Linked DNA regions of Homo sapiens: region 1 is linked to region 2. The links come from fine-mapping of genetic effects on gene expression. Tissue or cell type: tibial nerve. Region 2 holds a variant in brackets; the other region holds the start of a gene. All regions are shown on one strand. Distances are from middle to middle.

What was found. PIP is the estimated chance that this variant, and not a neighbour inherited with it, causes the effect. A credible set is the group of variants that fine-mapping cannot tell apart.
Region 1: XKR4 starts here. The variant in region 2 is the best candidate, but not a certain one, in a credible set for the expression of XKR4 in tibial nerve (GTEx, PIP 0.80).

The regions. Positions count from the first base shown.
Region 1 is chr8:55,096,090-55,106,462 of GRCh38, forward strand. XKR4 (XK related 4) reads left to right here and starts at 5,939. Exons shown (of 3, transcript NM_052898.2): 1 at 5,939-7,205. The coding sequence starts at 6,400. RefSeq lists a silencer at 5,013-5,182 and enhancers at 5,594-6,261, 6,930-7,595.
Region 2 is chr8:54,862,390-54,873,583 of GRCh38, forward strand. It overlaps a transcript of RP1 not described here. Among named protein-coding and RNA genes, the nearest start is that of XKR4, 230 kb to the right of the region's middle. The variant T/A (reference allele first, on the strand shown) is at 4,630.

The DNA of each region.
Region 1 (10,373 bases), 230 kb after region 2:
TCGGTTTTTCTCTAACCCTATTTCTGACTCCTTAGCTACTCTTTTCATCCACTCCAGCTACACTGTTCTCCTTACTAGTTCTCAAACACACCAGGAAAGCTACTGCCCCAGGGTGGTTGCATGTGCTGTTCTTTATTCCTGGAATGTTTTTTTCCAAGTAGCCATAAGTCTTGTTTCATTTTCTTTACACCTTCACTTCATATCCTCCTTTGGCTATCCTTATTGTGAGTGGGGTACTCTCCTCCCTTCATTCAGATACCTAATTCCTACCTCTAGGCCACCTTCAAGGCGGTCTTGCTCTGTTACCTGCCTACCTAGGGCCTTATAATTCTGATTTCCAATCCAAGATTCCACCTCACTTTGTGGTGACAAACATGGGGAAACAGGATAACTTCTCCATTCTGCAGAGAGCCTACACACTTCCCACTGAACTCTGAACTTATCCTAGTAGACGCCAACACAGAAGCCACACCAGAATATGCATTACTGCTAACATCTGACTGGGCCTCACTATGTTGCCTAGGCTAGTCTTAAACTCCTGGCCTCAGGCAATCCTCTTGCCTTGACCTCCCAAAGTTCTAGGATCATAGGTGTGAGCCACCACACCTGGCTTCAAAAATGTAATTTGAAGTATTTTCTGGCAGATGAGACAAGGGGTCTAAGAAAAAGATATAGTCAAGGATGACGACCCTATTTTGGCTTGAGAAACTTAAAGAACAAAATTGTCATTAAAGGAAATGAGGAAGAAGCAGCAGATTTTGAAGGGGGAAGATCTGGAGTTCAGTTTTGGATGTTTTAAATTTGAGATGCCTAGAGGCATCCAAGTAGAGATGTTGAGAAAGCAGTTGGGTGTATTCTGGGATCCAGGGGGTTTCCAGCCTGGGGAAATAAATACAGGAGTCACCAGCATATAGGTGTAATTTTAAACATGACATTTTATGAAAGTATCAAGAGAGTGAGAATAGGTAGTGATATGGTTTGGCTGTGTCCCCACCCAAATCTCATCTTGAATTGTAGTTCCCATAATCCCCATGTGTCATTGGAGGGACCTGGTGGGAGGTAACTGAATCACAGGGGCAGTTACCTCCATGCTGTTTTTGTGATAGTGAGTGAGTTCCCATGAGATCTGATGGTTTTAAAAAAGGCTTTTCCCCTGCTTAACTCAGCACTTCTCCTTGCTGTCGCCATGTGAAGAAGGACATGTTTGCTTCTCCTTCTGTCATGATTGTAAGTTTTCTGAGGCCCCCCTAGCCCTGCAGAACTGTGAGTCAATTAAACCTCTTTCCTTTATAAGTTACCCAGTCTCAGGTATGTCCTTATAGCAGTGTGAGAATGGACTAATACACGTAGAGAAAGATATGAAGACTGAACCAGCTTAAAGGTAGGAGAAATGAGAAGAAATTAGCAAGGGACCCAGAATTAGCAAAGAAGTAGACTTCAAAACGGGAAAACCCCAGAGTGTGTGATATAGTGAAAGCCAAGGGAAGAGCAGATTTCACTGAGAAGAGAAGGTTCTACCATGTCAAATGCCACTAGGGGGTCAAGGAAGGTGAGACTGAAATGTTCAGTAAGGTGGCAATAGGCTGCCAGCGACTTGGTAAGAACAGTTCCAGTGGAGCAATTGTTGGTTTATTTGAATGTGTTCAAGAGAGGATCGAAGAACAGGAATTGAAGAAAGCAAGTTTAGGCAACTTTAGAGAGCTTTGTTGCAAAAGGTTTCAGGGAAGTGCAGTGGTGACTAGAAAGGGAATTGGAATCAAAAGTTTTGTTTTGCTTTGTTTTTTAACTAGTGGATACATAGGAGTGTGTTTGTACACTGATGTACAGGAGAGAGGGAACATTGATAATTGAAGCAATGAGTGTGGAATTGAGCTCTTGAGCAGTAAGAGGGGTGGGGGCTGGTGAACAGCAAGGGAGTTGGCCTTGTAGAGCAGGAGGCTGAGTGGTACACGTGCTGGCAGGTGGGCAGAGAAGGTGCTGAACGCTTGTGTGGGTTCTGCTCTGGTCGCTTCATCTTTCTCAGTGAAATAGGAAGCAGAGTCATCAGGGGAGAGTAAGAATGGGGAAGGAGGTGTTTAAAGCTTGAGAAAGGAAAATATAAAAAGACATAATTTAAAAGAGCAGGAATGCAAATGGACTGGGAAGATGAGGTGTGACTGTGGAGCAGCCTTTGGGTCCACTTCAGGGTAAAGGTCCAGGATAGAAAGAAGTGCAGTGTGCAGGGCCACGCCCCTTCTCCAGCTACAGCCAGTTACACAGGGTCAGGCCTGATGTAGGTGGAGAACAGAGTTTAACCAGGGCTGGTGTTTTGTCGAGTAAGAGGGACAACAGAGATGAGGAAGTGTGTGAGAGGTGCCTATCATGATTGAGCATGGAATTTACATCGTGTAAGAAGAAAGGGGGGGCATGAAGGGGTTAAGGGACATGAAAAGGAGGTAGAAAACAGGTCCAGGGGTACAGGAGAGAGTGAGCTCATGAGTTAGGAGGGGTTAATCAGAGTGTGAGGTATGTAAAGTGGAGATTATGAAGCTGTTGAGTAATGCTAAGGTTTAGGTTATACCAGCTGTCTCCAACCCTTTTGGAAGTAGGGACCGGTTTTGTGGAAGACAATTTTTCCACTGGGGTTGTTGGGGGGATGGTTTTGGGATGAAACTGTTCCACCTCAGATCATCAGGCATTTGTTAGATTCGCACAAGGAGGACACAACCTAGATCCCTTCAATGTGCAGTTCACAATAGGGGTCGCACTCCCATGAGAATCTAACGCCTCCACGGATCTGACAGGCGGCGGAGCTCAGGTGGTAATTTCACCCTGCCTGCCACAGCTCACCTCCTGCTGTGTGGCCCAGTTCCTAACAGGCCACTGACCTATACCAGTTTATGGCCCAGGAATTGGGGACCCCTGGGTTATACAATGAGAATAAATCTCTCAGATTGGATGGAAGACAAAATCATTGATGGAGAGATCACATTTCTGATAGGCCAGGAATCTGTAAGAAACAACAACTGATTGTGATGCAGGTAGTCCAAGGACTGTGTTTTGAGGAACTCTAGTTTTAAGTAGAGATGGAGAGCCAAACACAAAAGTTTAGAAGCCAGAAGACATGAGGGGGCTGGAAGAAACAGGAAAGATATTAACAGAATGTTGTGTGTGGAGTGTGCTGGACACAGCGTTAAACAGTTCACATGCCTCCTTGTTATTAGTATTAGTATTTGTTTCTGGCAACAAGACCAAATTCTAGAGATCATTATTGTCTCTATTTAACAAACGATGAGCATGAGGGACAGGCAAGTTAAATAACATGCACAAAGATAAGTCCAAACTCTGAACTTGCAACCATTATGTCCACCTGCCTTGACAGGTGCAATGATTATGATAGAGCAGTTAATATTAAAATCTATATCCTAAAATGTGATTACTAGACTTATGAGATTAGAGACTCTTGAGAACAGTATTGTATACAAAGCCCTGTAATATACATGATCTCATCTAATCCTCATATTAATCCTGTGTATTAATTTGCTAGGGTCATGGGGCCAGTAATTAGCAAAGCCTGGATGTGAAGCTCATCCTCTGACCTCCTGCTTGTAAACTCCTGCCACTAACTACCCGTCACCATTACTTTCCAGATATGGTTCAGACAGCAACCTTAAAGAGACTTTTGAATAAATGTATTGATAAAGAAACCGTTACTAGTTATTTCTTTTTAGAACCTAACATAAAAAGTTTCATAATTCCTGTGTTTCCATGGGAACATTCGTTAGCACAGAATGCAGCATTCTTCCTGTCATGGAATGTTCTTTCTATAAATTCATGCATTCACTCAACTAATATTTATTGAGCAAATAGTCTGTGCATGTGCTGTGCCAGGTGCAGAGGATACAGTCGAATAAGAAACATCCTGTTTTAGGGGAACCTTTAGTCAGCCCCAGGTCTTCAGCACCTCAGATACTCTGCAGGGCCTTTTCATGCCTGGTGTAATTTAAGACACTGCATTTGACCTAGAATACACTCCATCCCTTAGGACCCAGTTACCTAAGAGATCATTTCTCTCCCTAGTGGTTTGGCAGAGAGTAAGATCAGCAGTAGCACCCTGGAGATGGAATCTTAGATTTGGACTCCGGAGAAATAGAATCAGGGTGTTTTCCAAAAAAGGATTCTTCTACTCCAAGAAGACCCAATTTTAAAGCTGGATTTAAAAATATACCCGCTTGCCTGGCATACTAAGCATCTTAGTGGGACTGTGTTGCCCCTCAGCCATCACTTGGCTATTCCTTTCGCTAGAAATACCGGATTTGTACATGCCATGTAATCGTGTAGAGACTCTATGACTCAACACCCTCCTGCCAAAATGTCAGGTCAAGGCCAACCAAGGGAGGGTCCTGGGCACCAGTCTGTGAGAATAAAAGGCAATGAATCCAGAGCGTGGGGCAAATTCCACTTTATCCAGGTTGGTGATGACACAGCCCTTGATACGTAGCACACAATGCGTGAGGCGGCTCTTTCCACGTGCAGAGAAATCCGTGCACTTCTATTTCATAATGTTACTCATTAAGAATGGCACTGTGTACTAGTTCGAACTCACCTGGCGCCTACCAGAGAGAAGCGGGGGTGGGTGGGGGGTGTCATGGTTTGCCTCCTGATTTAGAAGATCCAACTGGTGCTCCTAGTGGCAGTGTAACTCGTGTTGCCTCACTTACCTCCCAAGTATGTGAGTCACAGTATAATTTAAGAATTACACTCTCTATTTCTTACATTTGCAAAAGCTAAGTGAGACAAATCAAAGCTTAAGTTTCCTTATTAAAAAAATGAAGATCCTATATTTTATTGAGGTTTTAAAAATCTCTTAAAACCACAACATATTTTGTATTCTCCTTGAATCACTCCGATCACAGATTTAATTTTTCGAGTCATTTCTGGAGTTGTGGGACCACACAGCTAGTTTGCAATCCCTATAGCTTTAAGAGAAGGTATTTCTAGTTTTGGAGTAAGGAGTAAGGGAGGTGGCGCCTGCTCCGGGCTCCGCCACTCCCCGCCCGCGGGCCGGGGGTGGGGTGGCACTCGGTTTCCCGCGGCTGCCGGCCGCGCCCCGCGCCGCCGCCAGGGGTGCTGCGCTTCCCACCTGCCGCAGGACGCCTCGAGGGCCGGTGCGGTGCCCACTGGGCTGCCGCTCCTCCCGGCTCAGAGCTTTCCAGCCGCCGAGAACGTGCGAGGGACCCCGGCGTCGGGCAGGGGCCTGGGCCGCGAAGGGCGGGAGCGCCTCCGCACCTGCCTGAGCTCAGGCACCCCCGCCCGCCGGAGAAGCCGGGAGCCCTCGGAATGCCGGCTGCCTCCACCGAGGGCGCTGGCTCGGGGCTCCCAGCGGACCCGCCCGCCCTCAGCTGCCGGCGCGGCACCAGGCTCCGCGCTCCGAGCCCCGTACGCCTTTCTCTCCCCTGCACTCTCTGGCAAGGCCGGGCACGCCCACTGCCGCTGCTGGCCTCCGAGCCCGGGCGCCCGAGTTACACCCATTCTCCCCACCATCGTCGGCCAGAGCCGCGCTCCCAGCCCTTCTCCAGGTGCTGGCGGCTCCGACCGGAATACAAAGAGGCCTGCTCCTCCCTGGCCCTTGCTGCCGCCACACCCGTCCGTGCCCACTCTCCGCCGTCCTCCGCGAGGGCTGCACGCAGGGACCCCTCCTCTCAGCGCGCTCCTCCCCCTCCCCCAGTGTCGCTCAAATCCACCCAGCGTTCCGAAATCCCGGGAGTGGGGGCCTTCGACTGTCACCCTCAGGCCCCCTTGGCCGCTCCTCCCGGCCCTTGGGACCCGCCAGGGCAGTCCCCCAACCCCCGCCCGCCGCTCCTCTCGGTCCCGGCCCCTCCTCCGGGTCCCTCCTCCTCCCTCGCCCCTCCCGAGCCAGGGTGGGAGCGACGGCAGCTGGAAGAGAAGGGATGAGGTCATCCTCTCCCTCGGAGTCAGCTGGTGGAGGAGAGGAAGCGGGAGGAGGGAGCGCGCGCGAGGGGAGGAGAGGAATGTGCAGGTCCGAGGAGCGCCGCGGCGGCCGCTGCTGCTCCTGCTGCTGGCGGCGGCGGCGGCTCGGGCGGCAGCAGCGAAGCCGGGACGGCGAGGAGCGCGGGCGGCGGGCAGGGGCGCGCGCGGGGCGCCGCGAGCAGCTTGGCTCCGCGCAGGCAGCCAGGCGGCGCTCCTGCCGGCCCCAGGCGCGCCGCTAGCCCGGCCCAGCGCCCAGCCCGGCGGGCGGCGGGCGGCGGCGGACGGCAGGCGAGCCGACGCAGGAGCAGGAGGAGGGGGAGCCGCACCGCCTGGGAGGGAAGCCGGGGCGAGGCGAGGAGGTGGCGGGAGGAGGAGACAGCGGGGAAAGGTGTCAGATAAAGGAGGGCTCTCCTCCGGTGTGGAGGCATCATGGCCGCTAAATCAGACGGGAGGCTGAAAATGAAGAAAAGCAGCGACGTGGCGTTCACCCCGCTGCAGAACTCGGACCACTCGGGCTCGGTGCAGGGATTGGCTCCAGGCTTGCCGTCGGGGTCGGGAGCCGAGGACGAGGAGGCGGCCGGGGGCGGCTGCTGCCCGGACGGCGGCGGCTGCTCGCGCTGCTGCTGCTGCTGCGCCGGGAGTGGCGGCTCCGCGGGCTCGGGCGGCTCCGGCGGCGTCGCCGGCCCGGGCGGCGGCGGGGCGGGCTCGGCTGCGCTGTGCCTGCGCCTGGGCAGGGAGCAGCGGCGCTACTCACTGTGGGACTGCCTCTGGATCCTGGCCGCCGTGGCCGTGTACTTCGCGGACGTGGGCACAGACGTCTGGCTCGCCGTGGACTACTACCTGCGCGGCCAGCGCTGGTGGTTCGGGCTCACGCTCTTCTTCGTGGTGCTCGGCTCTCTGTCGGTGCAAGTGTTCAGCTTCCGCTGGTTTGTGCACGATTTCAGCACCGAGGACAGCGCCACGGCCGCTGCTGCCTCCAGCTGCCCGCAGCCTGGAGCCGATTGCAAGACGGTGGTCGGCGGTGGGTCTGCAGCCGGGGAAGGCGAGGCTCGTCCTTCCACGCCGCAAAGGCAAGCATCTAACGCCAGCAAGAGCAACATCGCCGCGGCCAACAGCGGCAGCAACAGCAGCGGGGCTACCCGGGCCAGTGGCAAGCACAGGTCTGCGTCCTGCTCCTTCTGCATCTGGCTCCTGCAGTCACTCATCCACATCTTGCAGCTCGGGCAAATCTGGAGGTACTGTAATGGGTGGGGGAAAAGGGAGGCTTGCTGCTGCTACTACATCCCCACTGCTTTGCTTTTGCACGGAAATCTTTCAGGGTTGCTTTGGTAGTAACCCTAGTCACACTCTTCCAGTTTTTTGGGTTTCTTTTGAACTGGGGCTTGCATTTTTAAAATTTGCAATCTCAGTCTAGGGTGGGAGGGAAGTGAGAAGCAAGGGAAGGACAGCAAAGTGGTTTCGATCACCTCATCCCTTCTGTCTTCCCACTCTGCCTTACTGGCTTCTTGCTCTTGGCATGCCACAACCCCCCTCCCCGCTTCCCCATTTTTAGTGATATTGTTTCAGTGAGTAGGAGAGGATTCCTGTCACATCTTCTAAAATTCCTTTATTATTATATTGAATTTGAGGTGTGTGTTGCCATTTGGATGGTTTCTTTTGTTCCCTGGGGAAAAAAAATTGCTAATTCTAGTGAAATGGGAGTTGCTGCTGCTCAAAAGTACCCACATATTAATGATCACTGCTGGAGAAGTGCTTTACTCAAAGTAAAGATCCTAATAGGCAAATGACTTTGTATATATATATATATATATATATATATATATATATATATATATCCCCGAGCATGATTCAGTAAGCTTTATGGGGCCCAGATTTACTTTTAGAGTGCCCTTTCTGATTATCTTGCAATATCTCCATATCTAATTTCTCATATAATTACAAGCCTTTGGAAAAGGGGTGGGGCACCATGTTAACTTTAGTTGTACTTGGTATCTTCGTTGGCTACTTTGCTGCTTGTCATCTGATCTACCAAGTCTTTTTACACAGGGATCACTTCAGTTATAAACTGGAATACAAGGCTAAACTTGGGCAGAGGGAAACCACCACTTGAACAGTCACTGCATGGACTTAGGAGCAGAATGAAATAGTATGCTCAGGAATACATTCTTTTGACTTTTATATGCTACTAGCAGATTTCGAAGCAATATTTTACATCTATAAAAATTACTTATATGGAAGTCTATAGATTCTAACATGTCAGAGCTTTTTTGGTTTTAAAATAACTTAGTAAACAGGTGGTATAAGCGAAATGAGGACAATTCCTAGAAAGTACACCAATATGGGACTACACTCTGTGGTACTGGTGCTCTTTTTCAATTTTATTTGTGGCTATTTTTGTGATAAAAGATGTGAGTTCTTGACTATGCCGAAGTATCACCTGTGGAAACAAGTTAGAGGATTTGTGGACTAGAACCACAAACTTCTTTTTATTTATGATGAACAACCATATGTTCACCTGAGAAGAGCAAGTGTGGTGATTTCACAACCTTTCCTGGGACCAGAGCTTTGTAAAGCAGACTGAACATTGCCATAGATGGTGACCTTCCAGATTGTGAAACATTTTTTTTCAAGCACACACTTTCTGAAAAAGTGATATTTGATATGTAGTCAGACAAATTGATGTTGGAACCTTCATACATATTTTGGACTCAAAGTAACTTTTTGAAATTCTAGTTAAATATGATAGCTATATTTCCCATGGATGACTATTGGGAAGACTTATAGCTTGATGCTCTTCAAGTATGATGAAGGACTTAAGTGCTTAATTTACTTACTGAAATTACTGACTGGCTAGGATGCATCTGATTAGCATTTCTAATCTGATAATTTGGTAAATTAAGCTTAACATTCCATTTGTTAACTTTTTCAAACTTTATCAAGATTTGGAAATCACTTAATTTTAACCACCTTTCAAGTTTCTAGACTTATGTAAATAATTCAAATACTTCTCTATCCTGTTAACTGAAAAACTGTAATTTTTTTTACAGATTGATTCTTTATGAAAAATCTGATATTAAATTCTGTGAACCGAGGAAGTCCTTTTAATTATAGTTGTGTTTACTATACCTTCTAAACCAAACATCTCCCCAATTGAAAAATGATTCTTAATTTTCTAGGGGAATAATATACAGAATGTGAGAAATAATTAGGAAAAGATATGAGCCTAAAAACATGTCAGAGAGACCATAGCCACTGGGCCAACTTATCATACAGAAAAGTTATTTCAGAGGTAGGGAGTGGGGGCGGGGAGAGAAGGGATGGAAGGGTAAGGTTTGAATGTAGAAAGAAAACCGCAGGCTGTCAGACAAATGTATTAACTGACCCAGACTTGGAGAAACTGTGGTCACACATGGCTCCTTTTAGTTAAGCATTTCTATAGTATTTTCCTTAGAGGCTTTAAAGTTAATACTGATAATGCATGATCATCTAGGAGGAATATTGTAGTTGGAAATATTATCAGATATAATATTCTGGAAATATTTGTCAACATTTTCAGAATAATGTGTGTAGTAGATAAGTTTGAATTATCATCTAATCTAACTATTCTCAGATTCTGATTAAAATATTTGGGGGATGCCAGAGTAATCTGGTGAAAGCGTGATCTAAGACTAATCAGCATCATTTTCTGTTTATGAAGTATATTTTTCAAAAAAACAAAACTTTAGCCTAATGTAGGAAGTTGGAAAGGGATAAGAAAGCTTATGGAACTTAACACTCAGATGCGCTCTAATATGTTTCTATTTCTCTGAGTGTTGAACATTCATGTGGAACTTTGGGGGAGTAGACGCATCTTTGCTAATAAGCCGACGAAGTGCAACTCATCTCAGATTTTTCTATTAGACTCACTATGATTCCTTAAATTAGAAGCATCCCTGTGCCTCTTCTAGCTTTTCTTTTCAATACATTATACACAAATATTGCAGAAACACCAGAGTACTGAGTGGTTCAAAGCACAGAGGTCATTATTCATGTTTTAACATGCTACTTTCTGGGATCAATAAAATAGATTTTAGCTAGGTTGGTAACTGCTTCTTGTGTTTCCATGAAATTCTAATTATTTTAGGGAAGGACCAGATTCTAAAAGCTTTCTCTAAATACAGTCTTTTGAAATAACATCAAAGCATTTGCTTGTTTAGAAATAGCCATTGAAACATTGTGGGTAAGATTTGCATGTATTTATACATATGTTACAATGCAACTGCTAAAAGCAATGATACATATTCATTTTAATTAAAGTTTACTAATGGGAAATTAATGGCAGCTTTTAAAGTCGCAGGAGGTGAGCTTGGGAAAGAGCTATTTGAAATAATAAAGTGAATTTTTGCTACCATGTGAAAAGAGCA
Region 2 (11,194 bases):
TTGCATTACCCTGATTTCTAGGAACAGTGAGCATTCTTTCTTCTTCTCTTTTTTTATCCTTAACTGAATTTCTTTGTCTGTGGAAATACATGTTCTTGTCCATAATATTTAGGGTAAAGGTAAAGGTCCTCTAATAAAAAGTGATTTACAAAAAAGATTTTTTAAAGATAGCAGAGTATTCCACACACAGGTAACAGCCGCAAAGAGAGAGCCATTCCCAGCCAGCCATCAGGGACCAGGTCCTTCCACCTTGCTATTCTTCCATCACCTAAATCTCCTCTCCTCTGTGTGGTCAGAGCTGGTTACAGCACATGAAAGACGGAAAGTCCCCTGCAACACTGTCTTTTGAGCATGGAAGATGGCAGCTGCGCATATGACTTCCGGCCACATTTCATTCCTGAGAAACTAGTCACATAGTTCATCTGTGGCTGCAGAGACATCTGGGAGATGTGGGCCTCTCGCATTGCAGAAATGCCAAGAAAGGGAGAGCAACTAGCAGTGACTGGCACTGTATCTTCTCTAGTTAGTGTTATTTTTAATGGCTGAAATTCTTAATTTTAAAGTAGTTTAAGAGTATAGTATAATTTTTAAATTATCAGCATATTTTGTGTCTTATTTAAGAAAGTCTTCTCTACCCCCAGAGTATTCCAAATGGATATATATATATATATATATATATATATATATATGCAGAATCATGTGCTGCATAACCATGTTTCAGTTAACGTGGACCACATATATGATGGTAGTCCCATAAGATTATCATGGAGTTGAAAAATTCCTATCACCTAGTAACATCACTGCCTTTGCAATATTGCAGTGAAACACATTACCTTTTCTATGTTTAGAAACACATATACTTACCATTGTGTGACAGTTGCCTACAGTATTTAGTACAGTAACACGCTGAACAGGTTATAGCCTAAGAGTATAGGCTGTGCCATATCACCTAGGTGTGTAGTAGACGATACCATCTAGGTTTGTGTAAGTGCTCACAATGTTTGCATGATAATGAAATCACCTAATGACGCCTTTCTCAGAATGTGTCCCTGATGTTAATGACTACAGTTTATACATCCACATACATATATTTTAAGTCTTGCTTTTAAGATTTAAAATTTTACTCCATCTGTAATTGATTTCTATGTATGATACGAGGATGGAATCAACTTTCATTCTTTTCCGTATGGATCATCAATTGTACTACCACTCTGTATTGACTGCTTCGTCTTCACTTGAGAGCTCTACAAAGTCATCTTTATTTTATACAAGAAGTCATTGCTTTGCATGGAATCTATATGCACAAATTTCAGTTGCAATGATTTATTTAACACAAATCCCCAAACAGCATAGTTCAAATTTCAGCTACCATGCTGTAGTAACTGCAATTGCATAAGTACAAACTTTGCTGCCAGCTTTTTAGTCTACAAATCACTATGTGGATAACAGATGCACATTCTCATCAGCAACCAGTCACATCACTTCTTCCAATGTCTGTCTGTTGGTGCTGGGTCATGGTGCATTTCTTATCAGTATATGCCTAGACAGCAAAGTGTATAGTTGTGTTGCTTCCTTGTTTACCAATAATGAATCCATGTGACAGTTCATAACAATATATAATTGAAAGATGAAAGTGTATCAAAGAAATGAAAAGTGGCAATGCTGGAAGTGAAGTTCAAATCTAAAATAAATGGGGTTATAGACATAATTTACCACCATGAAAGTGTTGACACTGCCACCATTTGAGAGACTGTAGATTCGCAGCAAGAGGAAATTAATGAGGGGAATTGATGTCCATGGATGAGGAAGGTGGTGGTGACAAAAAGGACGAAGGTGTCGATAAAAACTTCACTTAAAGGAATTCTGAGATATTTTATGACATTGAAAACACAAAGAAAAAAATATTGTAAGCTGATCCAAATTTAGGAGTTTAATAATTTGCTAAGATGCAAAAGATGCTTCCTCTGTATTATAAATTATATGATGAGAAAAAGAAGGCAAACACCAAACAGAAAAAATAAAACATTTTAATTTTCAGTGTTACTAATGTTTTAAATTATAGTGCATTAAATATTAGTGTTGCTACTTTTTATTTTTTATAGCCATTTTAAATTCACAGTAAAGATTTTTTGATGTTTTGAAAAAATGTTTACAGATCATCAAGCAGTCATAATTTTTCCCTGTTGATTATTAAGATGGCTTGCATAGTTTCAGCTTGCAGTTCTTGTTATGGTTCCACACTAATGTGCAGAGCAGCGCTGCCTGTATCAAGTTTGTGTGAAGGGGAAAGGTTAATTCTGAATTCATTTTCTGTCCCATAGTCAATTTATCTATGCCAGCCCCAATTCCACATTGCCTTGATTGGTATAGATTTACAATAAATGTTGATAAGTGGTAGGGTGATTCCCCTCCCTTACTCAAGATCAGAAGTGCTTGTGATATTCTTGGGCCTTTATCATCCACATGAATTTTATTACCAGCTTCTGGATTTTCATGTAAAACACTTTGGTGAATTTGATTTAATTACATTGAGGTTTTGAATTAGTTTATGAGGAACTGACATCTTTATGATATCTTCCTACTTACCAATATGAGATAGTTCTACATTTATTTATGGCTTTTTTTGCTGTCATTTCCTACATTTAGATGATTTTTCTATAAATTATACTACATCTGATTTTAAATTTACTCCCAAATTCTTAAATTTTTATAGCAATTCAACATTGTAACTTTTATTAAATTATGCTTTTTAACCTTTTCTCTCTGGTTAATAGAAATACACTGGATTTTTATGTATTAATTATATTTCTAACAATTTTTCTCATCACTCTTAATTCTATATTCTGTGATTTCTTTGGGTTTTTAAGTTAAGTCATATCTTCTGTGAATAATGACAGTTCTGTCTCTTTTTTCTATACTTATCAGTTTTCCTTTTCCTTTCTTCTTTCCCTCCTCTCCTTCCTCCCTTCTTCCCTCCTTCTCTCTCTCCCTTCTTTCCTTACTTTCATTTTTTCTTTCTTTAATTGTATTGACAAGTACAGTAATCAATAACTTCTAAATTTTCACTATTAAGAATGATGATTGATTGTGACTTTCCATTACTATTTAAACTTATAAATCTTCTATGACTTAACATAACTGAAATGCATTTATGTGAATTTACTTCTCTCTTTATTCTTGGCTCATGTGTTTTTAAATAATTTTTTTTTAATTTTATAGAGAGTTTGGGTCCCTATCTTCTCTTGTCCTCTGCTTCTAGTACTCTGAGTAATTAGGTTGCTCACTCACATTTTCATTTCTCTACGGGCATAATTTGCATGTGCATATTTTTGTACCTTGACATGTGTACTTAAAAAGGAACATTTGGAGGACCTATGAATAAAATCACAATGCTGGTATTTTTAAGCTAAAGAGTTAAATAAATCTCCTTTGTCAACTGACACAGGTAATGGATGGTTTCTTGGGAGTATTGTTGTTAAGTCTGAAGATGAAGACAGCAGTGAAGAGGTGCTGTTTCTATGCAACAGGTATGCTCTTAATGCATTATTATGCAAAATTATGCTCTCTTTGTCCAATTTATTCCACCTGTGTCCTCCAGCATGCCTCATCCCAGCTGTTGGACAACATCATTCCCTCCCTGAAAACCAGAGCTGAAGGCCTTCTCTCCTCAAGAAGCTGTCCTTTATCAGCACTAGTAATTCTCTCTTCTTTTGTAATCTCTAACATTTTTCTCTTCTGAAAAAAGTATGGTGAAATGGAAAGAAATTGGATTAGGACTTAGAAAACAGGTTCTTCTTTCTGTTTCTAAAACACATGCTAAGCTCCCTGCTAGTACTGTGAACTTGGGTACCACTCTTAACTTCTCTGAGGTTCAATGTCCTCATATGGAAGATGGCAATAATACCTGCTTCCCCTAGTTCATTTGAATCATTTAAACTCAAATGATGTTATATATGTGAACTGTGAACTCTAATGCATTGTACTAAAGTGGCGTAGATGTAATATAACAGGAGACTTAAGTGGCAAGGGTAACTGTAATTCCTTGGCCGGGTGGTCATAGGTGAATCTCTTAAACTTCTGATTCTCAGTTTCAAAGTTTTATGAGAATGATTAAATCTTCTCTACCTACTTTATAGAGTTATAATAAGTAGAATATCAAATGCACCTTAAAACAAAATGCACTAAACATAGAAATTATGTAGTTAAGTTCCCTCCATTATTAACCAATCTACAGAATATGTTGATCCATTTGATCAGTCATTATGCAAGTAGTAATTGACCACCCACCATATCAAGAAGTGGGATAGATAATGGAGATCCATCAATAAGGCAATCCAGTTTCTGTCGGCAAGGACCTATGGTCCCCACATGGGAACATGGGAAATGTTAACGACATGAGGGCAATGAGAGAGGCTTATATATGCTGTGAAGACCTGGGTGTCAAGGTGCTATGTCTATGTGATTGCATGTTCCTTGAATCTAGAGAACTCATGCATTGTATATATTAATTTATCCATCCATTTAATATGTTAATTTATCCATCCATTTATTTATGAAAAAATATTGCCTGCCTGCTAGGTGTTAGGTACTATACCAAATCCTAGAGATTTAGAGATAAAAAAGTAGAGT[T/A]CTTGTCTTCAAAGAACTTCCAATTGATGCTCAATAAGGGAGGAGAGATGTAACGCTACATGAAGCTGGAGAGCTGAGTGTGCTCTGAATTTAGTAGGTGGCTCAGCATCACTATTCCCTAAAGTGAGGGACACTCTTCAGATATGCAGAGATGCACATTGGTTGACTGACTGGATTTTACCTTACTATAGTTTCGATTCTAGGAAATAGTCATTCCTTTGAAACTTAATAAGGAGTTGAATTTTGTATGAACAAAATGTGTAGCACTTCTCTGATCATCTGTTTGTTTCTTTTCTCAATGCACTTCCATTTAAAGTGCATGTAGTAGTAGCTATTGCCATTTTATGAAATTCAAGCTCTAGGAAGAGACCTTGTATTTTTATTTTTGAAAGAAATCTTAGTGAATAGGGAATAGAAGGGGCAAAGATTGAAGTTTTTTAGCACCAGATTTGGATTATAATGGCATTACTTACTAGCTCTGGGAGCCTCAGTTTATTCTTATGTAAAATGGCAGTAATGACACCTATTTTGCAGGGTTGTTTGAGGATTTCAGACAATGTATATAAAGTACCTACAAAAGTGTCCTGCAATTATTAGAGGCTCCATGATGGTAAATGTTATTGTCACAGAAACAATTTTAAAGAAATTTTTAGACATGATACTACACATGCAAATGAAGGGAGAAAACACACCTTTGTTTCTAGATCATGTGTCTAGTATTTAGAACTCTCAAATAATTGACTAAGTTTTACTTTTTAAATATTGTATCTGCACAGTCCAATATGGTAGCCACTAGTCACATATGGCTAATTAAATTTAAATTAATAAAATCAAATCAAATAAAAATTCAGTTGCTTGGTTGTACTAGCTACATTTCTAGTGCTGAATAGACACAGATGGTTAGTGACTACCATATTGGCCAGTATATATACAACATTTGGTTTTATATCACATCTAGATATTTGGTATCATATGAAGCTGTGTTTAATATTTTACAGTGTAGTTTATTGCTCTGAATGTGATGGTACCAATGAAATAATGTAAGTAGTAAATATAAGATTATTATTTTTCTAGAAGTGCCACATTTAGCAAAGTCAAAAGGCATCCAGGGCAGGTGATAATGGTCACATTCTCTTCCAAGCCAAAATTAATTTTACTGGCAATGCAGAGGAGTAGAAATCATGAAAGTGACTTATTTCTACATTTTAGAATAATCACAAACCCTAGAAATTGGACTTACAGAAACAAAATGACGCAGATGAAAATATTTAAGATGGTTTATTGTATCATACTATCATATGGAATGATATGCACACTGGTGTATCATTGCACTGTTATCATTAACTATAGCAATATAAACTGTTTTCCTTGCCTTTTCTCTCTGAGGACCCAGGGTTAAATAAGTATTAAAAAATTATCTTGCTATTCCATCAGAAGTGGAAGAAACCATAGATAACATTTAGTTTCATGGTTTGTTTGACAGATGGGCAAACTGTGACCTAATGAGATTAATGGCATGCACACCTCAGACCCATTAGTCAGAAAGCAGGGGCTCTTGGTTCCTTGGCCCTCTGGAAAGTTTTAATTTAGTGTCTATCAATCTGTTGTTTCTATGATATAACTATGATTTTGTGAATTATCTTCTACTGAAGAATTCCCTGCACAAGATATCAAGTTTACTATAAAATTGTTTTGTCAGAAAGTTCTACTTTCTGGAGTGTTTGGAGCATTTAGATGACATAAGCTTTACTGTCTTCCGCAGTATAGATTATCAAGTACTTAAATGCAAGTCCCCTTCTAATTATGGGAAAAGAAAAGGTCTCCGAGAAGGAGGTTATTTATAACTTTATTTGTGGAGTTTCAAAATAACCAAGATATAGAGGGGTTACATTTTGTGTTGTGGGAGCCTCTAAGATTTCTGCACCCATCTGTTGTATTGCTGTAGAGAAAAATCAGAAGAATATCCATCACTAGCATTTACTGAATGCTTTCCAAGGAATAGGCTTCATGGTAAAGCCAGAACTGCACACAGATACTCATTTGATCCCCACAGCCAGCCTACAGGTAGACTCTGTGATATTTATATTTCAAAGACAAGGAAATTGTCTTTGAAATATAAAGATAGTAAATTTTTTGCCTGAATATATTAATAATTGGTGGAGTCAGGATTCAGATCAAAATATATTTGACTCTAGAACTGTACTGTCTCACATGGGAGCCACAAGCCACATATGTCTACTGAACTGTGGCTCTTCCAATGTAGGTATAAGATACATTCCAGATTTCAAGAGTGGAGAATAAAAAAGAATGTGATACAATTTTTATACTGATTACATGTTGAAATAATAATCTTTTGAATTTATGAAAATTCAAAATATTAATTTTACCTTCTTTTTACTTCTTTCCATATATGGTTTGTATTCTAGTTCTCTTGAAGAGTGCTGTCCTAGAGTCTGAGGGTTTAGCCACTGTGTATACCTGCCAGTCACATGACAGGAGAAAATAACAGCTACCACTAAGGAAACTCCAAGTGAGAAATTTTGACTATGTTAGAATATTTGTAATGTTACCAGAGGACTTTTCTAAAAGCCAAAATTTTAGAGTGAACCAATATGACTTTGCAATTTGAGTGTAGGAAAAAACTTGCCGAAGCTGGACTGCTAAATAATCTGGTGTGGCTTAAAATCTTAAATCCTTTTTTAAAATTCTGATCTCTCTAAAGGCCTCTTTAAATTCTTTCCATATGTTTTTTTTTCCTTTCTAACTAATGAGCCTCCTTTCAATGCTCTCTCATATTAATTATCTTCTTTTTTTTGCATGGCAGATGGCTAGATGAGTACCAAGATGATGGCAAGACCCAGCGGGAATTGCTCGCAGAAAGTAGTCCCAGTGCAGTAGGAGAGACTGGGTCTACCATCTCCTGAAAGGGCCCACTTGGGCCTGTCGCTCCAATATGCTTCAAAAGGCTATTGATCTGATTGTGATAGTGCATTTGTCTTTTGCTTGGGCTGGAGCAAACACCTGGGGAGGGTCAGTTTGTGTTGGACCCACTCATTGTTTCTGAGAACTTCCAAAATTGGGAGGATGCACTGACAGCCTCCGCCAACAGCTGACCAAGATCAGCCCCTGGTATCTGGGGTACCCATACTGCTGCTGCTCACCTCCTCCCCCTCCTCTTCCTTCACCTTTTCTTTCCCTTCCTCCCCACTCTTCCCCTCCCTCCTCTCCCTTCTTTCTTTTCCTTTTTCTTTCAGAAAATCTGACTTACTGCTAAGGTTACTGAAATGTCTAAATAAGTATTCTTTGTAGAAAATAACTGAAGAGGTACCTAATAACATTTGATGCATGAAAAACACTTTTATGCAACCTATGTTAATTTTAAAGTGGAAGTTTTATTGTTAGACAATGGTATGTCTCTCTCAGAATTAGTGGTAAAATCAATAAGAAAATGTAGAAAGAACCCAACCAATTGGGTTACTGTGTGTTCCCAGTGCACGTCCTGTGGGTCCACTTGCAGTTTGAGCTTCGAGCTGGTGACAGAGTCCTGCAGGCAGAGAGCAGCAGAGCGCAGGGCAGATATCTCACATCCATCGGTCACTTTTTCTCATGAAGCCTCAAATACTTGTCAACTTGGTGCCACAGGTGCCTTCTTCTAATCCGTTAATTTGGCACATAAGCTAAAACTCATTTGCCAGCCCCGGAGAGGTCAGGATGTAGCTTTTGATATCAAAGACACCTGTCTTTGAATCTCTATTTTGCCCCGTGAGGTAGATGCTATCATCACCCACATTTTGCAGATGAGGAAACCGACACATGGAAAAGCCAAGTGACCTGCCCAAGCTTAGAGAGTGGAACAAGCAGGAGAGCCGGGATGTGACCCTAGAAGTCTGACTTCAGAGCCCGTGCGCGTCCACACTGTGACCTTGGCCCTCCTGCCTTCCCTGCTTGTTTTTAGTATCCCATGAAATCAGGCAGAGGGGCCAAGGAGGCAAATCTTGCATACCACCTTCATGATTTTTGTCGTCTGCAATAGTACCTGTACTAGTATATGCTTGATATTTTCTTCCTTGAACTGTGTCTAAATCAGTGTATTTAGAGGTGAAGAGAGCTTGGCCTCATCCTAAATCATATTCCAAATATCCATGAAATCACTGATTTAATATGTCATTACATTTTTTCCTAAAACACATTAAAATAAATCTATGTCTAACAAAAATTTTAGGTTAGTCTATATACTACCTAAAATTATTTTATAAATATCTAGTAGTCGGCACATTTCACCATTACGGTGTGTGTGTATATGTGTGTGTGTGTGTGTGCATGTGTGTATGTGTGTGTAGAACTTAACTCTGGCCTGGCAGATCATTATTAGTAAATAATGTTCAGTAAGTAGATGCTGTTGTTATAATGGTTTCCCTTTTACTAACCCATGACCAAGAACTAATCCATTCCTTAGAAATGGTATATTTTTACATCTGAGGATGAAAATACATCAAGAATACGGCTTCAGTGATTTGAAGTTAAAAACAGCCTTTTTTTTTTCTAAAGTGTCCAGCAGACCATATTACAGGTAAGAAAAATAAGTACAATAGTTCTCCCTTATTGGTGGTTTTGCTTTCTGAGGTTTCAGTTACCAGAAGTCAACCACAGTCTGAAAATATTAAATGGAAAATGTCAGAAATAAACAATTCATTCATTTTCAGTTGCATGCCATTCTAATCAGTGTGATGTAATCTCATGCCATCCTGCCCTGTCCCATCCAGGATGTGAATATTCTCTTTGTCCCGAGTATCCATGAATCACTTAGTCCTAGTATTGCAGCACTTGTGTTTGTCACCCTTATTTTACCTAATAATGACCCCAAAGTGCAAGAGTAGTGACTCTAGCAATTCGGATATGCCAAAGAGAAGCTGAAAAGTGCTTCCTTTAAGTGAAAAGGTGAAAGTCCTTGTCTTAATAAGGAAAGAAAATAAGTTGAATGCTAAGTTTGCTAAGACTTATAGTAAGAACAAATATCTGTTAAATTGTAAAGACAGAAAAAGAAATTTGTGCATAATATAAATAGGGTACAATACTATCCATGGTTTCAGATATCCACCAGGGGTTTTGGAACATATCCCCCAAGGATAAGGGGGACCACTCCAGGCTGCACAGAAGCTTGGAGAATCACTTCTTGCCCTTGATGACATTTATTTCATGGTGCCCTGCCCAAAGCGGATACTGAACAAACACACTCATTTACTAAGCAGAAGCTTGTGAAGCATCTCCCAGACACTGGGAATAAACTGGCAAACAGCATAGTCATTTTCCCTGCCCTCTGAGGGGCCAGTGTTCTAGCAGGGACCTGAGTGAATAATGTGCGTTCTGCAAACAGAGCCGAGGCGCCCTCCAAACTCTCAGGCCCTGCGGAGGGAGAGAGATCTTGTGCTCAGCTTTGTATATTCAGTTCTTGGCATACCAGGTGCTCTCTGCTAACTTGCAGGCCCTATGGAAGGAGAGAGATCTTGTGCTCAGCTTTGTATATTCAGTCCTTGGCATACTGCCTGCTTATAGTCAGTGCTCTGTGTCTATTAAATACATGAATCATTCTTGCCTTACCACACAATACACCTTATTAGAGATTGAAATATTAAATGATTCCCAATTCAGTTTATATTTGTGCAGAATAAGTATTCACAGATAATTACACTCAGTGCCTCTATTTTTACAAACTTTGATGCAACAATACAGTTTTATTCCAAACGTAATCCTGCCCCTTTCTCCCCACCCTGCCACAGTTCAGATTGGAGTTGTCTATTTCCTAATTCTATCCAACAGAACATTTACAATTCTTCTCTTGAGGGGGGAGGTGATGTAAATACCAATTGGATCCATTTTATGTGGATTCTTGTTTATTTTATCCTTATAGTGCTCATTTCTTAGACATTGTCCACATTCTGGGACTGTCTCAGTCCAAACTCCTTACATAATAGCTATTCCTTGAAAACTGGAAAACTAACAGTGAAGCTATATTTATTTCTAGGTTTTCAGAGACAGCAAAAAATTATTGACAGTGCATAGCACAAAGGCAGCAAATAGATTCTTAAAGGTTGGGTGAAAAGAGGCATTTTGGTCATGTCGTTTGTTTTTTCTTGTGGAGTGAATGATGTAAAACCCTCATCCATAAACCTGACATGCATATCCTTTAAAAATGCTGGTGAGTGGTAGACAAGTGCAAAAACAAAGACCAGAAAACAAAATGTGGCCCATTTCATGGAGCACGACAATTGCCTAGCACAACTCCTGTGTCTTCATGGGTTTGCTTGTATCTGGGTTAAAAGCAAGATGGAGCAAAGAACACTTTTATCTGATGGATGCATCCTCTATTTTAACCAGCAAGTTATCATGATGGTGCAATGATGATATGGATGGCCTTCAGGTGCTAAAGTGTTTTCATATAAACTTCGCAAGCAGATTTAAGTTATGTGTTTGTTATAGCAAAGGATGATGTAGCTTCTTTGTGGCTGTGGGTAAAATAATGTCTTGGACAGCTAAGCTAATTGTTCTTTAATAAGGAGAGAGGCTC